Linked DNA regions of Homo sapiens: region 1 is linked to region 2. Evidence: fine-mapped expression QTL. A gene starts in region 2. The other region holds a variant in brackets. All regions are shown on one strand. Distances are between the middles of the regions. Region 1 overlaps IQCK (IQ motif containing K). Region 2 holds the start of IQCK (IQ motif containing K).

Region 1 (10,133 bases), 21 kb before region 2:
AATGTGGAGGTCTTGATCTAACTCTCAGGCTGAGATAATTCATGGAAATCATGTGCTTAAGGTTTATTCTCCCAATTGTAATCTCCACCAAAAATTAAGGATTAGGGAAATACCTGCCTATTAAATATGCTGAATTTTACATTGAGCATTTAAAATAGAGTTAAATATCTAAGATGGGCCAGGTGCACTGGCTTATCCCTGTAATCCCAGGACTTTGGGAAACCAAGGCAGGAGGACCACTTGAGCTCAGGAGTTTGAGACCAGCCTGGGCAACACAGTGAGACCCCATCTCTAAAAATAAAAATGAAAATAATTTTTAAAATGAAAAAATATACTATTTGTGTGCTTAGAGAAAAGAAGAAAAAATAATCTAAGCAGGAACAACTGTTTGTTTAGAAACTATATTAAATTCATAGTATTTAAAATGATATATATAAAAGAATCACAAGATGAGTGACTCAAAATCAAAATAATCAAGCTTGCATAGCTTTTGGGGAACAGGCCTGGGTTGAAAGGGTCTGCCTGATTCCAGAGGCTGGAATCATGGAATTGCTGAACCATGTACCACACAATGCCTGAATTCATGTGTGCAGACACACCTACACCTATACACACACCCACACACACCACACACCACACAATAGATGTGTGTGTAATTGGCCAAATGCTCTATGGCATAGTAATTAGGTGCCAGCTCTTGCTGTTTCTCTGTCTGCTCTGTTCCCCCTGGTCTTCCTTGGAGTTTCATGGTACTGGCAGGACAACCTAAATAAAAGGCTTGCTAACTTCTCACTCCTTTTCTCCACAGCCTCCAGACCCATCTTTCATGTCAGAATCTGACCTCTGCTTTCAGCAAGCTGTGTGACTGACCATCAGAGTGGAGCAGTGGTCAAACTCTTAGACTCTGGAACAATTCTTGGTTTGAGTCTTGGCTCTGCCACTTTCTAGCTGTGAACTTAAGCTTCTTGGTTAGCCCTGGTGCTGTACAGCCCTGATCCATAAGATGATGATAATAGCATCCACCTCCAAAGATTGTTGGGAGGATTAAATGAGTGACTGCAGGTAAAGTGCTTAGAATGACATCTGGCACAAAGCAAGGCTCAAAAAGTGCTGACAACTACTATTCTTGAATCCTAGCCTCTTGCTCTACTCTCTGGCTCTCCATTGTCTGTGAATGAGGCTCCTTCAATTTGAGGGGATTTGCTCCTTGCCCAGCTCCAGCTCCAGGGAGCCTAGCAGACTTAGGCGGTCTCCCCATTGTTTACCTCCCTCCAGAGGCAGTAGATCCAGTCACTGCAGGTATAGTTAATAAATTACCTCCTGTGTGTAATAACTACAACAAACTGAATAAAGGTCACAGACCTCCAGAGTGCTCATGTAGCTTAATTATGATCTTAAAAGTAGGCCCTGACTTTTATTTATTTATTTATTTATTTGAGACAGAATCTCACTCTGCCACCCAGGCTGGAGGGCAGTGGCGTGATCTCAGCTCACTGCAACCTTTGCAACCTGGGTTCAAGCGATTCTCCTGCCTCAGCCTCCCGAGTAGCTGGAATTACAGGCACGTGCCACCATGCCCAACTAATTTTTTTGTATTCTTAGTAGAGACAGGGTTTTGCCATGTTGGCCAGGGTGGCCTTGAACTCCTGACCTCAAGTGATCTACCCGCCTCGGCCTCCCAAAGTGCTGGGATTATAGGCATGAGCCACTGCATCTGGCCAGCCCCATCTTTTGAGAATCCATATTCATTCATTTATCCAATAAATACTCATTGAGTTCCTACTATGTTCCAGGCACTATGGGGGCCATGTCATAGAAAGAAAAAACAGAAAAATAATGAAGTCAAGTATAAATAACTAGACATCAGCAGTTTAAGGGCAAAACGCAGATCAGCAAGTATTTTTGAGCAACTTAATATAAATGTTATTTCAAGATATAATTTGAATGGCATCAATAAACAATGAATTACGCTGCTGTGTAAGAGCCAATTGGATGCAAGTTCAGTTGTGGGTGACAGATAAAAATGCCCCAGTTATGTAATTTTGGTTGGAGGCCAGTCATCATTCAGTTTAAGCATCTATTCCCAATGACAGGATGTGAGGAACAGCTGAATCAAGAAAATGTGAATCTGTTGTGCAGATCAGGATAAGGGGAGTTCCACTTGGGTCTGACAAATGTTGAAATGGTACTAATGTCATTTTTAAGCCTTCGAAAATAACCCACAAAAGACTAGATGACCGGGGACGGGGGAACATGGAGGGAATCCGATTTAATTAAAAAACCCTAAGTCAGGAAATGAAGAAAGTTAATAGTAATTTACCCACCTTGCGTATTTGTAGCATTCAAAATACTGAACTTCCTGGCAAAGCGTGAGAAGCAGAGGAGGAGGAAGTTAACATTCCTTGGGTCTGGAAGTATCATTCATTACTTCCCCTCTTCCGCCCAATGACAGGAGCAGGTCTGCTGTCCTTTCAATAGTTGAGGAAACTGAGGCTCACGGATTACTTAGGGCCATGCTGCAAGGAAGCAGTCTAGCAGGATTTTGAACTCCCGTGTGCCTGCCTTTCAAGCTTCTCCACTCTTATAAGTGAACAAGTTTGTTGTTGTTTTTGTTGTTTTTGAGACTCAGTCTCACTCTGTCACCCAGGTTGGACTGCAGTGATGAGATCTTGGCTCACTGCAAGCTCTGCCTCCCAGGTTCAAGCAAGTCTCCTGACTCAGCCTCCCAAGTAGCTGAAATTACAGGTGCCTGCAACCACACCTGGCTAATTTTGGTATTTTTAGTAGAGACGGGATTTCACCATGTTGCCCAGGCTGGTCTCGAACTCCTGGGTTCAAGCAATCCTCCCGCCTCGGCCTCTCTAAGTGGTGGGATTACAGGCATGAACCACCATGCCTGGCCACATATGAACAGTTTTAACAACCCACATTTTCTACATTGCTTTATCATTCATTATACAATTTAAACTTTAATGCTCTGTTCAAGCACCCTGGAGCATCTGACATCTAGACTGTTTTCATTTAGTCTCAGGAGTAGCTCATCTGTAGGATGTCAACAATGAAATATGAGTTGGCACAAGGATGCCTCATTAATCTCTAATATAATTAGAAATTTATCTGGTTCTTTCAAAGCATTTTATCACTGCTTACAGGCTGGAAACTGTTTCTAGCCCCCTTGTTACAAAATTATTTATGGTCAAATATTAGATATGCAACCTTCATGTAAAATCTTAATTACTGCCCTTTTAGCTGATTTTTGTGCCCTCTGAAAGGGTATAAATTAGAAGAATAATGGCCAAGTAAATTAGAATAAAGGTTGCACAATGGAATATACATGCACCAAGGTCTAGAAATGAATCCCCAGCTACAGATCCACTGTAGCCATTTCTCCTTATTCATTCTTATTTCAGAGGAGTGAAAAAAACAGACACAAGGGGAAGAAAAATAAAAACAACTTTAGTTCATCATTATGGCTCCTCTAGGACAGGACCATGTCTTCTTGTCCCCTCAGTGTGCCCTGGGGTCTGGCCTCATGATCAGCACACAGCAGGGCTTAATGAATGTTTGTTGAACAGAACCAAACATGGGCGACTCATCCTGCTTCATCCTGCTTGTAGATATTCTTTTTTTTTTTTTTTTTAGATGGAGTCTCGCTCTGTTGCCCAGGCTGGAGTGCAGTGGCACGATCTTGGCTCACTGCAACCTCTGCCTCTCGGATTCAAGCCATTCTCCTGCCTCAGCCTCCCGAGTAGCTGGGACTCAGGCACCTGCCACCACGCCCGGCTAATTTTTGTATTTTTAGTAGAGATGGGGTTTCACCATGTTGGCCAGGCTGGTCTCAAACTCCTGACTGCATGATCCACATGCCTCAGCCTCCCAAAGGGCTGGCATTACAGGCATGACCCACCGTGCCCGGCCAGATATTCTTTACATGTATGAAAACAAAGATTATTCCACTGTGCTCATTTCATTGTTTGATCATTATATTCCATCCTTTGTTCAATCGAATAAAAAGACACAGT[G/A]CACTCAATATACTTTGGTCAACAGCAAGATAGGAAAAAGTGATACAATTGCTGAAATGTGACTCGTGAGGTGCTCTTCCTCACTTAGCAGCAGAACAGAAGGCAGAGGGACAAAGCCATCTGACAATGGTGTGGCCAGGCTGAAGGTCTGCTCTGGGACCACTCTTCAACCCAGCCTCACTCCCCTTCCATTCAGCCACACCTTGCACCTGTTTAACACCACGGGATACCTACCAACTGTATCACACCACAATTTGATACAATTTCTGATGATGATCATAGCAGTAGTCAAAACACAGATGATGGGGGAAGGTCAGTTATGAGTAGTGGACAAGAATTAAATTGTCAGGAAAAGCCAAGTGAGCAAATGAAAAAACAGATAAGAATTAGAAGCCGTTTAAATTTGATAACTGAAGGCAAGTAAGCAGTCTGTTCTTCAGAAAATAGCTATGAATGAAAAAAAATCAGTATCTCTGGGAGCTATTTTGAGGACAGCCTCCAACTCCCATTTACTAGGAGGGATGGAAACCCAGGCTTCAGGATCATCTGGGCCTTGGTTGGAGATGTGTGCTGTCTGTTGCTTACTAGGTGACCTTGAGTAATGCTCAACTTCTCTGTGTCCCAGGGCCATCCTTGGTAAAAGGGAGGTGATGAAAAAGAAGATCTGGTTCAGAAGGTTATTGTAAGGGTGAAACAAGATGGTGCATAGGATGCCAGTGCTGACGCACAACGGGCAATAAATCAATGAGAGGGCTCCTCTTTTTTTTTTTGAGACAGGGTCTCACTCTGTCAACCAAGCTGGAGTGCAGTGGCGCCATCATGGTTCACTGCAGACTCAACTTCCAGGGTTCAAGTGATTCTCCCACCTCAGCCTCCCAAGTAACTGGAACCACAGGCATGTGCCACCATGCCCAGCTAATTTTCGTATTTTTTGTAGAGATGGGGTTTTGGCATGTTACCCAGGGTGGTCTCAAACTCCTAAGCTCCAGTGATCCACACGCCTCAGCCTCCCAAGGTGCTGGGATTATAGGCATGAGCCACCACACTGGGTCTTCTCTGACTTTTGATATAATTTCTGATGATTATCATACCAGTACTCAAACCACAGGTGACAGGAGAGCAATTACCTGGATTTAATCATCAGTACCTGAATCATTGACTTTATTTTACCAGCTTTTTTGTTTACAGTTCTCATCAGCAGAGTGCCCTCTCTTGTTAGTGAAAATAAGGGATCTGATCATTATGGTCTTCCCAGGTTCAATATGACAACCATGACTGTAGTAGCACATCAGGAGAAAGAGTGGGGACTGAGGTCCCCAGATTTGAATTCACCAGGCCTATGTGTCAAAACTAGGATTTCTGACAAAGCAATATGAGGAAAACCTTACAACTGTGTCTTTGTTGGGGTGAGAGATGTGAAGCCCCCACCCCCAGTTCCACCTGCAAGGGCTACATGATAGCTGAATTGCATTTAAGAGAGGAGGGAAAGCTGCATGCTGGGCTTGGCCTTGCTGAGTGGGCCATGCAAGCTGAGAGCCACAGCTGAATTGTTCAGGATCCAAAAGGGGTCTGCAGAGGGAGCATGGGGAGGGGGTTCCCAGAGGGTGAGAAATGCTTCCAGAGAGGACTAACGAAGTATTGCTTGATAAGTGCCAACACAACCCTCTTCCCCACCTTCCCATGAGAGAACCCATAAAACAAACCCTCCTTGCGAGATCACTGTGGAATTGGATGGTTTTTCTGGGAACTGGGACCAAGTCCTGAATAAGGACTCTAGATGGCGAAGGAACAAGAGTGACACCACTCAGGTAGCAGGTGTAACCCACAATATCTGGGAAGTACCTGTACCACTGTATCACTGAGATAAATAAGTTAACATGTATTGAGTTCTTCCTAGGTTCCAGGGACTGGCCTAAGTACTTTACATGAGCTACCTCATTTCATCGGCATAATAATCCCATGAGCAGGTGCTATGATCAGCCTCATTTTACATGGAAGGAAGTGATAATGGCTCAGAAAGATGAAATGACTTGTCCTGGGCTATGCTGCCAGCTGGGATGGAGGTGGACTTCAAAATCAGGTAACTTTGACTCAAGTGTTGCTCTTAACTGCTGCGCTATAAATCAAGGCCCAATTTACTAATTATTTGCATAATTAATATATGAGGTGGGGGGGGTCAGACTGTGTCATTTGCCCCTCACTGTTCTCCTCCATCAACTAAACTCATGAAATAGAAGCATATCTTCTTTCCTCACCCCTCCAGGGAATTTCTCCAGGGATGAGTCCAATAGAACAGCCTTCCCAGATAGAAGGAAGCTGGGTTTTGGTCAAAGACATAGTAATAGTGACATTCCCTGGTGTATAATCATGCATTCACTTATTTAATATTTATCAAGGGCCAACTCTATGTTCACCATGTGCTAGGCATTGGGTAGCATTGACTAAAGATATAAAAATAAATCAGAGAATCTGTCCCCAAGGAACTTAAAATACAGGGGGAGACAGACATGCATAAAATTAAGTATATGTGGGCTAAGAATGTCTTAATTAAGGATGTCTTAATTTGCCATAAAATGAGGAACAGATGAAATACTCTGAAATCTGAGAGTTGGGATCAATTACTTCTAGTTTGAGCCCAGCAGGGAACTGGAAGCTTCAGAGAGAAGTTATGGAGCTGAGTTTGGAAAAACAAGTAGAAGTTAAATATGCAGAGAAGAGGAGCTCAGGGATTTTTTTTCTAAAAAAAGCAGAAGCAGATGCACAGAGGCCGTGAGGTGGGGGTTGGTGCAGCGAACTTCGAGTGGTTCTGCTTGGGTGGAGGGTACCATCGGGAAGGGGAGCACTGCGGGGGAGAGACGGAGGGAGAAAGGAAGGAAGGAACCAATGAACACATGAACTAGGCAGAGCCTTGAAAGCTAGGCTGAGGGCTAGTGACTTCGTTATGTGGATCTACTGTTGTCAAATGGTGAACCACGGCCCAGAGGTGTATCCCAAATTCTTCCTTCCTAAGCGTGCTACCCAAATTCTGATCAATGTCTCATCATCCATTTCTGCCTCAAGTAAAGACACAACTGTCATGGTGACGCCTGTCAAAGGAATGTTATGCTGAGCAAATTAAGTGGCAGGCAATTAGGGGGAGGTATAATATGGAGTGATTAAGAGGCAAGTGGGGCAGGATACTGTGAAGGCATTGCTGAGGAAACATCGGGTATTTGCTAGAACATGGGAAAACCTTATTTCCTCAGTATATAGAAGTACCAGCACGGCAGTAGGCAGTTCTCAGATGGGGACCCTGTGCTGAAGGGCAACTAGTTGGGTGATATCATTAACTATGGATAATTTTATAGACCCTAGGATGTGTCAACCTCATTGGGGTTTACACTGTAATTACTGCCGACTTTTTTAGTATCTTTTTTTTCTTTTGGAGACAGGGTCTTGCTCTGTTTCCAGGCTGGGGTGCAGTGGCATGATCATGGCACACTGCAGCCTCAACTTCCAGGGCTCAGTTGATCCTCCCATCTCAGCCCCATGAGCAGCTGGGACTACAGGTATGCACCACCATGCCTGGCTAATTTTCTTTTTCTTTTTTTTTTTTTTTTTGTAAATACCGGGTCTCACTTTGTTGCCCAGGCTGGTCTCGAACTCCTGGGCTCAGACAATCCTTCTGCCTTGGCCTCCCAAAGTGCTGGGATTATGGGCATGAGCCACTGTGCCCGGCCTTTAGTATCATTTTGAATCATTTAATCTGGATTTGAGTCCTAACTCTGCCATTCACCCTTGATCACATTTCAGGCCTCTGTGTCCCTCCATTTTCTCCTCTGCAGAGTGCAGATAATAATAATAGAAGGAAGCTCACATGGCTGGGGAGAGCAACTGCAATAATGGAAGATGCAGCACTCAGCAAAGTGCCTGGCACAGAGCGAGTGCCTGGTCAATAATAAATGTTGTAATTTTACTCTCTTCATCTGGATCATCCAAAATTCTAGAATTCAAAACTGTGCAGGGAACACATACACCCAAAGTATCCCGTGAACTACGGAAAAGAGGGAGCCTCTAAGGGTATCCGCGTGGGTGTAGGCCAGCATCGGAACTCGGTTTCTACCGAGTTCACTGAGTTTTTGCCCAGTATCTACAATCAATCAATCAATCAATCAATCAGTCAGGCGTGGTGGTGCATACCCGTAGTCCCAGCTGCTCAGGAAGCTGAGGTGGGAGGATCAACTGAGCCCTGGAGGTTGAGGCTGCAGTGTGCCATGATTACGCCACTGCACCCCAGCCTGAAAACAGAGCAAGACCCTGTCTCAAAAAGAAAAAAGATACTAAACTAAAACTTCCCTGCAGAGAAGCTGATTCTCTGCAGTGTGATGTTAATGTTATTTACTGAGCACTTACTGTGTTCCAAGACTCTCTGCGAGCAGTTTACATTCATGACAGTTGGCATGGAGTAGAGAGATGCCAGGGGGAACAATCAATCTAGAGCCAAGTAAGAAGTAAGCAGAGTTCTGTGGGATTTTTTTTTTGAGTTGAGGGTCTTGCTATTGCCCAGGCTGGAGTGCAGTGACGTGATCATGGATCACTGCAACCTCAAACTTTGGGCCTCAAGGGGCCTTCCTGCCTCAGCCTCTTGAGTAGCTGAGGCTACAGGTATGCGCCACCACACCTAGCTAATTTAAAAAAAAATTTTTTTTAGAGATGGGGGTCTCACTATGTTGCCCAGTGGTCTTGAGCTCCTGGCATCAAGTGATCCTCCCACCTCAGCTTCCCAAAGTGCTGGGATTATAGGCATGGGCCACCGTGCCCGGCCAAGGAGAGCTTTAATCAGTGCATGTAATAAACAGAAGCTGAAGACCCAAGAAACCTGGTGGATGCCAAACTGCACAGGAGAAGGGCAGGCAGGAGGCCAAGCAAGGCGGAAAAGCTCTCCGGAGTCCAAGTGGCCAGACAGATGGCAGCGCATGTATGTGCACAACTAGATGGTGTGGCTGGAACTGGGTAAGTGACCCCAAACACAGGCTTTCCCTCCCGAAGGGGTCATCTGGAGAACAACCTGATGGTACCAAGATAATGAGCTATCATCTGATAATAATGAATGATTGAGAATCTCAAAATAAAGAAATCCTGCCAAACAACTGACCTCAAAACATTTTTCTTTCTTCGCTTGGTGAAGCAGGCTAGCCATTCCGGGAAGCAGAACAGGAAAGATGAAAGTTTCCAAATATTCTTTGGGAGAACCTAAAACAAACAAACAAAAATTCCCCCTGCAAATCCCCAGTGGCCCGAGCCAATCTGGGAGAAATGTTTACTTTTGAGCCAGAAAAAGGTACTGTCCATTCAATCACATGATCTTAGATGTTATATTTTGCTCCAGACTACAGAGCTGGGCTGTATAACTAAAGTAACTTAAAATGTCCCTCTGAGCCTCTATAGTCTGGTGAAGATGTAGGAAGTATCCTACATAAGGCCAGGTCCACCAGCTTGTTATGGCCCCAAAGCAGGAATAGCAAGGGGCCCAGTGTGGCCGGAGGGACAAAAACAAGGGGAGTGTGGTAGGAAATGGGAGCAGAGAGGAATTGGGAGTCAGAGTATAATGGGTAAGGGCTTAGGGTCACAGTAATAAAGGCAGTCGTTAGCCAAGGCCCAAGGCATGCAGAAGGCACAGAACAAACCAGTAGGAGAGGGTCTGGTACCAGGGAGGGCCCAAGGAACTACGACTCAGATCTGCAGTATACACCCCTGCTTCCACACACAAAGCAGGGAAGCATGATGATGTTTTCTTCTACTTTTTACTTTTTTTTTTTTTTTTTGAGACAGAGTCTCACTCTGTCGCCCAGGCTGGAGTGCAGTGGCACAATCATAGCTCACTGCATCCTGGACCTCTCAGGCTCAAGCAATCTTCCCACCTTAGCCTCCCAAATAGCTGAGACTGCAAGTACCTGCCACCACACCCAGCTAATTTTTTTTTTTTTCTCGCTCTGTCACCCAGGCTGGAACGCAGTGGTGCGATCTCAGCTCACTGCAACCTCCGCTTCCCGAGTGCAAGCGATTCTCCTGCCTCAGCCTCCCAAGTAGCTAGGGTTATCAGTGTGCACCACCATGCCTGGATAATTTTTT
Region 2 (10,044 bases):
GTCCATGCTTTAAAACCATGCTGGTGTCTTCTTCAGGGGTTTGAACTTGAGAGTCAAAACAGACTTGAGTTTGAAGCCGACCCTGCCGCTTACTTTGGGCAAGTTTCCTAACCTTTCTAAGCCTCAATTTCCTCATCTGTTGCTGTGAGGCTTAAATGAGAAGTAATGCACCTAGCACAATGCCTGGCACATAAACAGCAGCTCAATAAATGGTTGCCATTAGGATGATTTGGGTGAATGGTATGTTGTGAACTAAGAAAAGTAAACAGAGATGGGACGTTAAGAAGCTTAAGGGTTAAGCTAAGGAGTTTATCTGTAAGCTATGAAAATCATTGTAGGTCACAGCATGATGCGATTAGATTTGAATTTTAGAGAGGTTCCTACGACAGCCAGTGGGATATGGTCTGGAAGGAGGCCTGCCTCAATTAACAAGCCACAGCAGCAATCTAAGCAGGGGGTGGTAAGGGCCTGATCTAAGGCAGCAGACATGAAGACTGGTGGGGGTGGGGAGTGGGGGCAGGGTGGGGATGGTGGGAGATATTAAACAGGTAGAATCTATAAGGACTGGCAAATGAGAGTGTGGGGCCGTGGAAAGTGAAAGGGAAGCAGGCCGGATGCGGTAGCTCACGCCTGTAATCCCAGCACTTTGGGAGGCTGAGGCGGGTGGATCACCTAAGGTCAGGAGTTCGACACCAGCCTGGCCAACATGGTGAAACCCCACCTAAAAATACAAAAATTAGCTGGGCATGGTGTCAAGTGCCTGTAATCCCAGCTACTCAGGAGGCTGAGGTGGGGGAATTGCTTGAACCTGGGAGGTGGAAGTTGAAGTAAGCAGATATCGCACCTCTGTACTCCAGCCTGGGCAACAGAGCAAGACTCTGTCTCAAGGGAAGGAAAAAAAAAAAAAAGCTGGACTGGGCAGCTGAGTGAACGATGGTAACATTCGTGGAGATGGAGATAAGTTGTTGGCGTCTAAAACAGTGCCTGCAGTTATACCTGGCCCAGCATTGAAAACAGTTCCCAGCCCTGGTAGATACAAGTTGGCTCAATGCTTAAGAACAATTTATTCGGAGAAATGAGGAAGAAGCTGGTCTGCCCTTAGTTGATAAGGGAATGGGAATGAAAGACTGATAGGAGCTGGAAGAGGATATAGGGTCATGGTGGAGGTTTCTTCCTGATATGACAGGCCAGGGGTGTTTGGAGGAAAAAGCTAGTAGAGAAGTTAAAGGCGTAGCAGAGGAAGTGAGTGATAAAGCAGGATCCTGGAATAGCAAGGGGACGGTAAGCAAAGATGGAGAGCTGAGTGGCGAGTAGCGGGGTGAGAGCTTCTTCCACGTGTACAGATGGATGTTAGCAGACTCCCTCCCCACTCCTGACTGCCTGACTCTTCTCAGTGAACGCATCCTATGCTAAGAGGTATCACAGAACATTTCAGGAGGTGTTACAGACTTGGACTAGTAGAACCAGGCAATGGGAGAAGGCATTGAGAGATGCTGATTGCTGAGCAGTGCTGAGAGCCAGTTGGGGTCATCTTTCTTCAGCTGGCTCAGTGGCTGTGCTGGAGGAACAAGTATTGATTCACAACTGATCCATGTCGGTATCTGGCAGGTGAAATGAAAGGCCAGATTTTACAACAGCATTGAGGGCTGAGGCCAGAGAGTGCTTGATTAAGTGATGAACCAATGACAATAGTGAGGATGCTGATAACAGTAATCACAGCATATCAAAATAGGAAACTGTAAGGCCAGGCGCGGTGGCTCACGCCTGTAATCCCAGCACTTTGGGAGGATGAGGCGGGCTGACTGCTTGAGGTCAGGTGTTTGAGACCAGCTTGGCCAACATGGCAAAACCCCATCTCTACAAAAAATTAGCCAGGCATGGTGGTGGGTGCCTGTAATCCCAGCTATTTGGGAGGCTGAAGCAGGAGAATTGCTTGAATCTGGGAGGCAGAGGTTGCAGTGAGCCGAGATTGCGCCACTGCACTGCAGCCTGGGTGACAGAGCCAGACTTCATCTCAAAAAAAAAAAAAAAAGGAAACTGTTAAGCCCCACATCCTTTGATTGTCTTGATTAAAACCATGAACACAGCTAGTCACAAACTACTATAAGATTTGATTAGAAGTGTTGGCCGGGAAGAAGTTTATTGACACTAACACGAGTGCTTTTTAGAATACAAAACTCAGTTGTCACTGGAAAGATGAGGGAGAAAACTGAAGAATATTTACAAATAAGTTATAGTGGTGAGCATGCACATACATACAAAAGAGCACTAGTCAGGTTGGTTAAGGTCTGTGTAAGTTAGATATTGACCTACTTTGTATTTTGTCTTCATGAAATTGAGTTTCTGGCAGGTCTGTTTGCTATGATAATTTGTCTTTTGAATGGAGATTATCTTAAGAGAATGTAGTACTTAATCTCAAAGATAGGATTACTACAAAGCCTGTTTTTTCATGTTTGTTGTCAGAAACTGAATTTACTACATGTTATAGAAAACTGCATTTGTTAGATGTTTAAGAATTGGGTTTATCCATCTGTTATAATACTCATCACAGTGTCCATGTGTATAGTTTGCCAATGTTGACCTCACTGAATTGTTTTTTTTTTTTTTCTAGACGGATTCTTACTTTGTTGCCCAGGCTGGAGTGCAGTGGCACGATCTCAGGTCATTGCAACCTCCGCCTCTCAGGTTCAAGCGACTCTCCTGCCTCAGTCTCCTGAGTAGCTGGGATTACCCACCACCAAGCCTGACTTAGTTTTTATATTTTTAGTAGAGACAGGGTTTCAACATGTTGGCCAGGCTAGTCTCCAATTCCTGACCGCAGGTGATCCACCCGCCTTGGCCTCCCAAAGTGCTGGGATTACAGGTGTGAGCCACCATGCCTGACCTCATTCTGTAACTCTATCATTTTAAAAGTGGCATCAATTCACTTGCTCTTCAGAGAGAACCAAAACCCTTTGTCTTTGCTTTCTCTCTAGAGGCCTATTTGACCAAAATAAACTCGGTGTGTAAATCACAACACAAGGCATGTTTCTTTGTCAACAATAATGAACATTTATTGACTACTTTTTAAATGCCAGGCACTGTGCTAAGCACCTTTTCATACATTATCTTACTTGGTCCCCACAACAGCCCTGTGAGGTAGGCACAACAATTATCTGTCTCTTACAGATGAGGCTGAGTAACTTTTCTAACAATCCTCTAGTAAACTGTATTATAAGAAACTGTTTGGCTTGGAGAAGTGAAAGCTCTGGGGAAAAGGCAGCCACAATAACTACCGTCAAATTATCTGAGTAGATTCTTTGGGGTAGAGTGATTAGCTCCTTGGATCATAGCACCAAGAGGTAAGGACGTAGGGGTGAAAGTGACAAAGAGAACATGCAAAATGAAAGGGATTTTTCTAGCACAATGTAAGGTTGGAGAAGGAATTTAAGTACTGGATGGGGTTGAAACAGACAGCTTTGGAGGGCATCTATCAACTGAGTCTACTATTCTCTTCCTTCTCTGTATTCTCCACTTCTTTCGAGTCATCGCATATACTGGTACATTCATTCTTTTTTTCCATTCAATAAACATTTACTGACCTGCACTATCCAATACAGCAGCCACTATCCAAATGTGGCTATTTAAATTTATTAAAATTAAGTCTGGGCTGGGCCTGGTGGCTCAGGCCTGTAATTGTAGCACTTTGGGAGGCCGAGGCAGGTAGATCACCTGAGGTCAGGAGTTCAAGAGCAGCCTGGCCAAAATGGTGAAACCCCTTCTCTACAAAAATAAAAAAATTAGCCAGGAATGATGACGGGTGCCTGTAATCCCAGCTACTCAGGAGATTGAGGTGTGAGAATGCTTGAACCCGGGAGGCGGAGGTTGCAGTGAGCCCAGCCAGTGCCACTGCATTCCAGCCTGGGCGACAGAGCAACATGCCGTCTCAAAAAAAAAAAAAAAAAAAAAATTTGAGTCCAACAAGAAATTCAGTTACTCAATTGCACTAATCACATTTCAAATGCTAACTAACCACACTTTTTTTTTTTTGGGGATGGAGTCTCGCTCTGTCACCCAGGCTGGAGTGCAGTGGCGCAAACTCGGCTCACTGCAACGCCACCTCCCTGGTTCAAGCAATTCCCTTTCCTCAGCCTCCCAAGTAGCTGAGATTATAGGCGCACACCACCACGCCCAGATAATTTTTTTTTTGTATTTTCAGTAGAGACGGGGTTTCACCGCGCTGTTTCAGGCAGCTTAGGTAGTGATGGTGGCCACACGAATGAAAAATCTGAGTCCTTGACCTTGAGGAGCTTATGGTCTAGTGGAGGAAAAAGAAAACATCCCACCCAACATTATTCATTAAGAACTAGCGCTTACGTAGCTCCTTCTGTAAATCGAGCAGTTTGTGTTTTTTTTTCCCCAATAATCCTTTTGCCCTCCTAAAATCAGGCAGTTTGCTAAGCACTTTTTGTGACTATCTGGTTCCATCTTCTTAACACCATCGAAATAGGTGCCATTATTATGCCCACTTTGCAGACAGGGTCATAAGTTAAATAATTTGCCCAACCTAAGTAACAAATACTGAGTAGAGCCACAAAGGAAGATGTGCTCAACTCCGCCTGGGGAGGTTAAGGAAGGTTTGAAGCAAGAAGGGACTAAAACCCGTTTGTCCACACCATGGTTACTGAACGTGTGGGCCACCGACTACCTACGTTAGGATTACCTGGGGTGCTCTTTTAAAAAGTGCAGATTCCCTGCATCCCAATTTGAAGCTCTGTGGGCGGGGCCTGGGAACCTCCGTTTATAACAAGATCCCCACCCCGGCCCCCGCCCCAGCAATTCCTTTCGGTTCACTAACCGAGGTTTAAGAACCAATGGTCCACACCGCATGGTTCTCTTTATTCAGCTTTCCCTCGCCGTTCCCTTGCCTTTAACCTCACTACGGATCGCGATTGGAGTCCGCGCTGCGTAACCTCGGGCCAGCCTCTCCGAGCCTCAGTTTCCCCATGCGTAAAATGCGGAGCCCGGGCCCGCGGAGCCGCTGCCCGGCGGCCCCGCCCGTCAGCCGACAGGCGCACAGTGGGCGCTCCCCAAACGCGGCCCCCGTCCGGCCGCCCGGGTCCCGCCCCTCTCGGCCAGCCCAGGTTTCCTACCCTTGCAGATCTGCTCCCACAGATTCTTGCTTGACGGCTCGGTGACCTGCCACGACGAGACAGGCAGCTCGCGGGACGCGAGAGACACGGTGGGCACCGGCGTCCGGGTGAACGACGAGTCTGTAGAGCAGCTGGGCTTGAGGCGCACTATGTGGCTGGGGATTTGCCGCGGTGCCGCCATGGCCGCGGTTTCCACGGTAACCGCGTTCGCCGGAAGGCCGCGACCCGGAAGAAGCCGGAACCCGAGAGGGTGGGCCGGCGACTCGAAGTGGACTTCCGGGTCACGGCGGAGCTGGCTCTCACGTGGAGGCGGGGAAATTTCGCCCACCGGTGAGTGCCAGGGCGCGTTGCAGGCGGGCCGGCGCGGGGTGTGGAGATTGCACCAGAGGAAGTGCGCGGCGGGGAAGATGGGGAAATGCGGTCCACCCACATCCCTGAATCCGACCCCTCCAGTCGGTGTGCGCCCGCTCCGGCCTGAGGCCGCCGCCTCCAGAAAGTTTTCCCGCCTCAGAGCCGGCCCTGGGACCCCACGTAATCCCTCCCAGTCTGTTGATGCGGAGGCTTGGGCCCATGGGAGCCTTGGAGGTACGGATCTTACTTCCTGGCTCCCGCGCGTCCTGCTGGTGATCCTGCCGGGGGAGTGGGGTGTTGCTGCACAGGCTTTGGAGTCCTGTGGGCGGAATTCCAGTCTCCGTTTTCCACTTGCTGGCTTTGGAACCTAGGGCAAGTGAATTATTGTAGTCTCTGGAGCTTGCGAGGTCGGGTATTCACAAAGATCTTCACAAGGCTGTCCCTGGAATTTAAAAGCGGTTTTGGAGAAAGCGTTTGCGTTTGCAGGAGATGCACTGTAACGTTCTTTTCCTTTCTCCTTGAAAGAGTGAATGCATTTGGTCGCAGGGCTAAAGAGGAGGATGCTATACTTTTCTAAATGGCAAGAGATGGGGAGAGAAGGGGATTAAGAGTTGACCCGCAACCTCCCGGTGGATTCTTTGTTCTTACCAGATCTCTTGGCCACTCCCCTATTCTGAAGTCGTCTTGGCTCTCTTGACTGCTCCCCTATTCTGAAGTCGTCTTGGCTCTCTTGACTGCTCCCCTATTCTGAAGTCGTCTTGGCTCTCCTGACTACACTATTTCAAGGTTTGCACCTTCTTCTTTGCAAGCTCCTTTATCTCTGCCCACTTATTTAAATGCCAATACAATAGTCCCCCTCCCCCATTATCCGCGGGCAGTACGTTCCTAAACCCCCAGTGGATGCCTGAAACCACAGACAGTACCGAACCCTAAATATAACTGTTTTTTCTTGTGTATACTATCTATGAGAAAGTTTATAAATTAGGCACAGTAGGGCCGGGCGTGGTGGCTCATGCCTGTAATCCCAGCACTTTGGGAGGATGAGGCGGGCGGATCACCTGAGGCCAGTAGTTGGAGACCAGCCTGGCCAACATAGTAAAACCCCGTCCCTACTAAAAATACAAAAATTAGCCGGGCGTGGTGGTATGTGCCTGTAATCCCGGCTACTCGGGAGGCTGAGGCGTGAAAATTGCTTGAACCCGGGAGGTGGAGGTTGCAGTGAGCCGAGATGATGCCACTGCACTCCAGCCTGGGCAACAGAGCCAGACCTTGTCTCACAAAAAATTAGGTGCAGTAAACGATTACCAACAATCTAGCTAGTAATAAAATAGAACAATTACAACAGTATACTGTAATAAAAGTTGCATGCATGTGGTCTCCCTCTCAAGATAACTTCCTGTACTGTGCTCACCTATTTTGGGACCAGGGTTGACCAGGGGTAACGGAAACCTGGGATTAGGTGGCGAGCTACTGTATTTCTTGAAGTCTTGTCTCAGGCTTGTTCTGTTCAAGGCTTATCACCACCCATACATTCCTAACTTTATGTCGCCCGTGTCAGCACGGCCACCCAAACTCCTCATCCATATATATTCACCTGTCCAGTGAACATCTCCAAGTCATCTGTCCAATCAAGCCTGTTCTTCAGCCACTTGCCTTCAGTACCTTTGTCTCAGGGATTAATACCACCATCCTGCAGTTGTTCTTCAGAAATTTTCCTGACAACTGGTAGGACAGGTTCCACAACCTCCACCACCCTGACCTTAGCACTGTCCTTGCTTTTATCACCTGTATCATTGTATTACACCTTATTCCCTCCCACACCTACTTGCTTCTTGATGGGTGGTGTTTTATCTTGTTCATCTCTGTATCCCTAGCATGTGTGCATTCATTCAGTGAGTATGTATTGAGCACCTGCTATGTGCCAGGCACTGAGCAGGACACTGGAAATAAACCAGGAAACAGGGCAGACAGCAATGAATGAGTATAGTTATTCCCTTGACTCTCCAGGTGCGCCTGGAGTGGGTTATGAATGAACTTGACCTGTAGCTCAGGCCTGGCTCTTTGAAGCTGCTAAGAGAGAGCCAGCTCCAGTGTGGACCCTCTGAGTTCCGAAGCTGAGGAGGGCTGCAGGATGGAGAAGTTTTTCCTTTCCCTCCCATGATCCTAACTTGCTATGAAATATTTTGGGATATTTTGCTTCTAGATTCTGGGAATGTCTAGTGCAGGAACTTGGCTGGGGACTGGAGTGAGAGCAGTGGTCCAGCTGGACACTGATGGGTATTGAGGACCCCAGCCCATTCTCACAGGTGCTTCCACGATATCTGTCCAAGACAAGCTGGGTGCCCTCAGTACTGTGCATCATTGTGACTCATTCAGTGTTGGCAATCAACTTCAAATTTTAAAAACAGTGGAACTAGGCCAGGCAAGGTGGCTCATGCGTGTAATCCCAGCACTTTGGGAGGCTGAGGCGGGCGGATCACTTGAGGTCAGGAGTTTGAGACTAGCCTGGCCAACATGGAGAAACCCCGTCCCTCCTAAAAAAGAAAAAAAAAATTAGCTGGGCATGATCACGGGTGCCTGTTATCCCAGCTACTCAGGGGAGGCTGAGGCAGGAGAATCACTTGAACCCAGGAGACGGAGGTTGCAGTGGGCCGAGATCACGCCACTGCATTCCAGCTTGGGTGACAGAGCAAGACTCTGTCTCAAAAAAAAAAAAAAAAAAAGAGAAAAAGAAAAAGGGAATTAACAGTGTACCAAGCCCTTTCCATGGGTTATCTCATTTACTCCCTCCAACACCCTTTTGAGGAGGGAGGTGTTATATTCCCCCATTTTCCAGATGGAGAAATTGAGGCTCAGGGAGGTTAGCTGATTTACTTAAGGTGAGAGAGGCATTTAGGTTTGAACCTAGGGCTGTGTGGATTTAAAATTTACGCTGTTTCTGTAGTATTTCTTTTTTTGCTTTAAAGGAATCATGTCCATTTTCCCTGTCCCACAACGCTTTGACCACCCACTCAAAGAAACATGGCTCTTGGCAATGCTTAGTAGAATTGAACACAGGATGGCTTGGTATGGGATAACTTGTACCATTTGTTTTTTCAGGAATGATCACCAAGACACACAAAGTAGACCTTGGGCTCCCAGAGAAGAAAAAGAAGAAGAAAGTGGTCAAAGAACCAGAGACTCGATACTCAGTTTTAAACAATGATGATTACTTTGCTGATGTTTCTCCTTTAAGAGCTACATCCCCCTCTAAGAGTGTGGCCCATGGGCAGGCACCTGAGATGCCTCTAGTGAAGAAAAAGAAGAAGAAAAAGAAGGGTGTCAGCACCCTTTGCGAGGAGCATGTAGAACCTGAGACCACGCTGCCTGCTAGACGGACAGAGAAGTCACCCAGCCTCAGGAAGCAGGTGTTTGGCCACTTGGAGTTCCTCAGTGGGGAAAAGAAAAATAAGAAGTCACCTCTAGCCATGTCCCATGCCTCTGGGGTGAAAACCTCCCCAGACCCTAGACAGGGTGAGGAGGAAACCAGAGTTGGCAAGAAGCTCAAAAAACACAAGAAGGAAAAAAAGGGGGCCCAGGACCCCACAGCCTTCTCGGTCCAGGACCCTTGGTTCTGTGAGGCCAGGGAGGCCAGGGATGTTGGGGACACTTGCTCAGTGGGGAAGAAGGATGAGGAACAGGCAGCCTTGGGGCAGAAACGGAAGCGGAAGAGCCCCAGAGAACACAATGGGAAGGTGAAGAAGAAAAAAAAAATCCACCAGGAGGGAGATGCCCTCCCAGGCCACTCCAAGCCCTCCAGGTCCATGGAGAGCAGCCCTAGGAAAGGAAGTAAAAAGAAGCCAGTCAAAGTTGAGGCTCCGGAATACATCCCCATAAGTGATGACCCTAAGGCCTCCGCAAAGAAAAAGATGAAGTCCAAAAAGAAGGTAGAGCAGCCAGTCATCGAGGAGCCAGCTCTGAAAAGGAAGAAAAAGAAGAAGAGGAAAGAGAGTGGGGTAGCAGGAGACCCTTGGAAGGAGGTAGTTTTTCCTTCAGAAATGGACTTTGCCGTGGGAGAATTAAGGGTGGGGTTTGGGAGGGGTGTGTAGGCGTGTGTGCATGTTTGTACATGCACGAGTACTCATGCTTTTAGCTAAAACCCTGGTTAAATTAATTTCAGCCAGAATAGGGAGTTTATTGATATATGCAATTGGAAAGGTTATGGTTAACTAGCTTCAGGTATGGCTGGATCTAGGGGCTCATGCAGTATCATCGATAATTGCAGGTATCCTTTGCTACTGAAACCACCCAAGTTTTCCCTGTCTGCCGTTGGGGTCTGAATTAACTGGGATCAATTTTTCAGATGAATCCCTTGCTTTCTGAACTCTTGCCACTTGCTATCCAAAACTCAGGAACCAAGTAACATGAGATAACGTAGTGCCTGTAGCTATCTGAGTATCATCACAGCTCAGTATACACAATTTATACATCAAATAGATTTGGGTAGCCGGAGATGCCTGTATGAGATTTCCTCAGCTCTGGGCTTTGTATTTTTCTATCTTGGTTTATGGCCCATCCTCCT

What was found. PIP is the estimated chance that this variant, and not a neighbour inherited with it, causes the effect.
Region 1: its variant is the best candidate, but not a certain one, in a credible set for the expression of IQCK in whole blood (TOPMed, PIP 0.82).

What each region holds. Positions count from the first base shown.
Region 1 is chr16:19,734,474-19,744,606 of GRCh38, reverse strand. IQCK (IQ motif containing K) reads right to left here. Exons shown (of 9, transcript NM_153208.3): 4 at 9,157-9,254. Among named protein-coding and RNA genes, the nearest start is that of IQCK, 21 kb to the right of the region's middle. The variant G/A (reference allele first, on the strand shown) is at 4,023.
Region 2 is chr16:19,713,576-19,723,619 of GRCh38, reverse strand. IQCK (IQ motif containing K) reads right to left here and starts at 5,349. Exons shown (of 9, transcript NM_153208.3): 1 at 5,133-5,349. The coding sequence starts at 5,313. KNOP1 (lysine rich nucleolar protein 1) reads left to right here and starts at 5,393. Exons shown (of 5, transcript NM_001012991.3): 1 at 5,393-5,462; 2 at 8,583-9,502. The coding sequence starts at 8,585. RefSeq lists an enhancer at 5,140-5,469.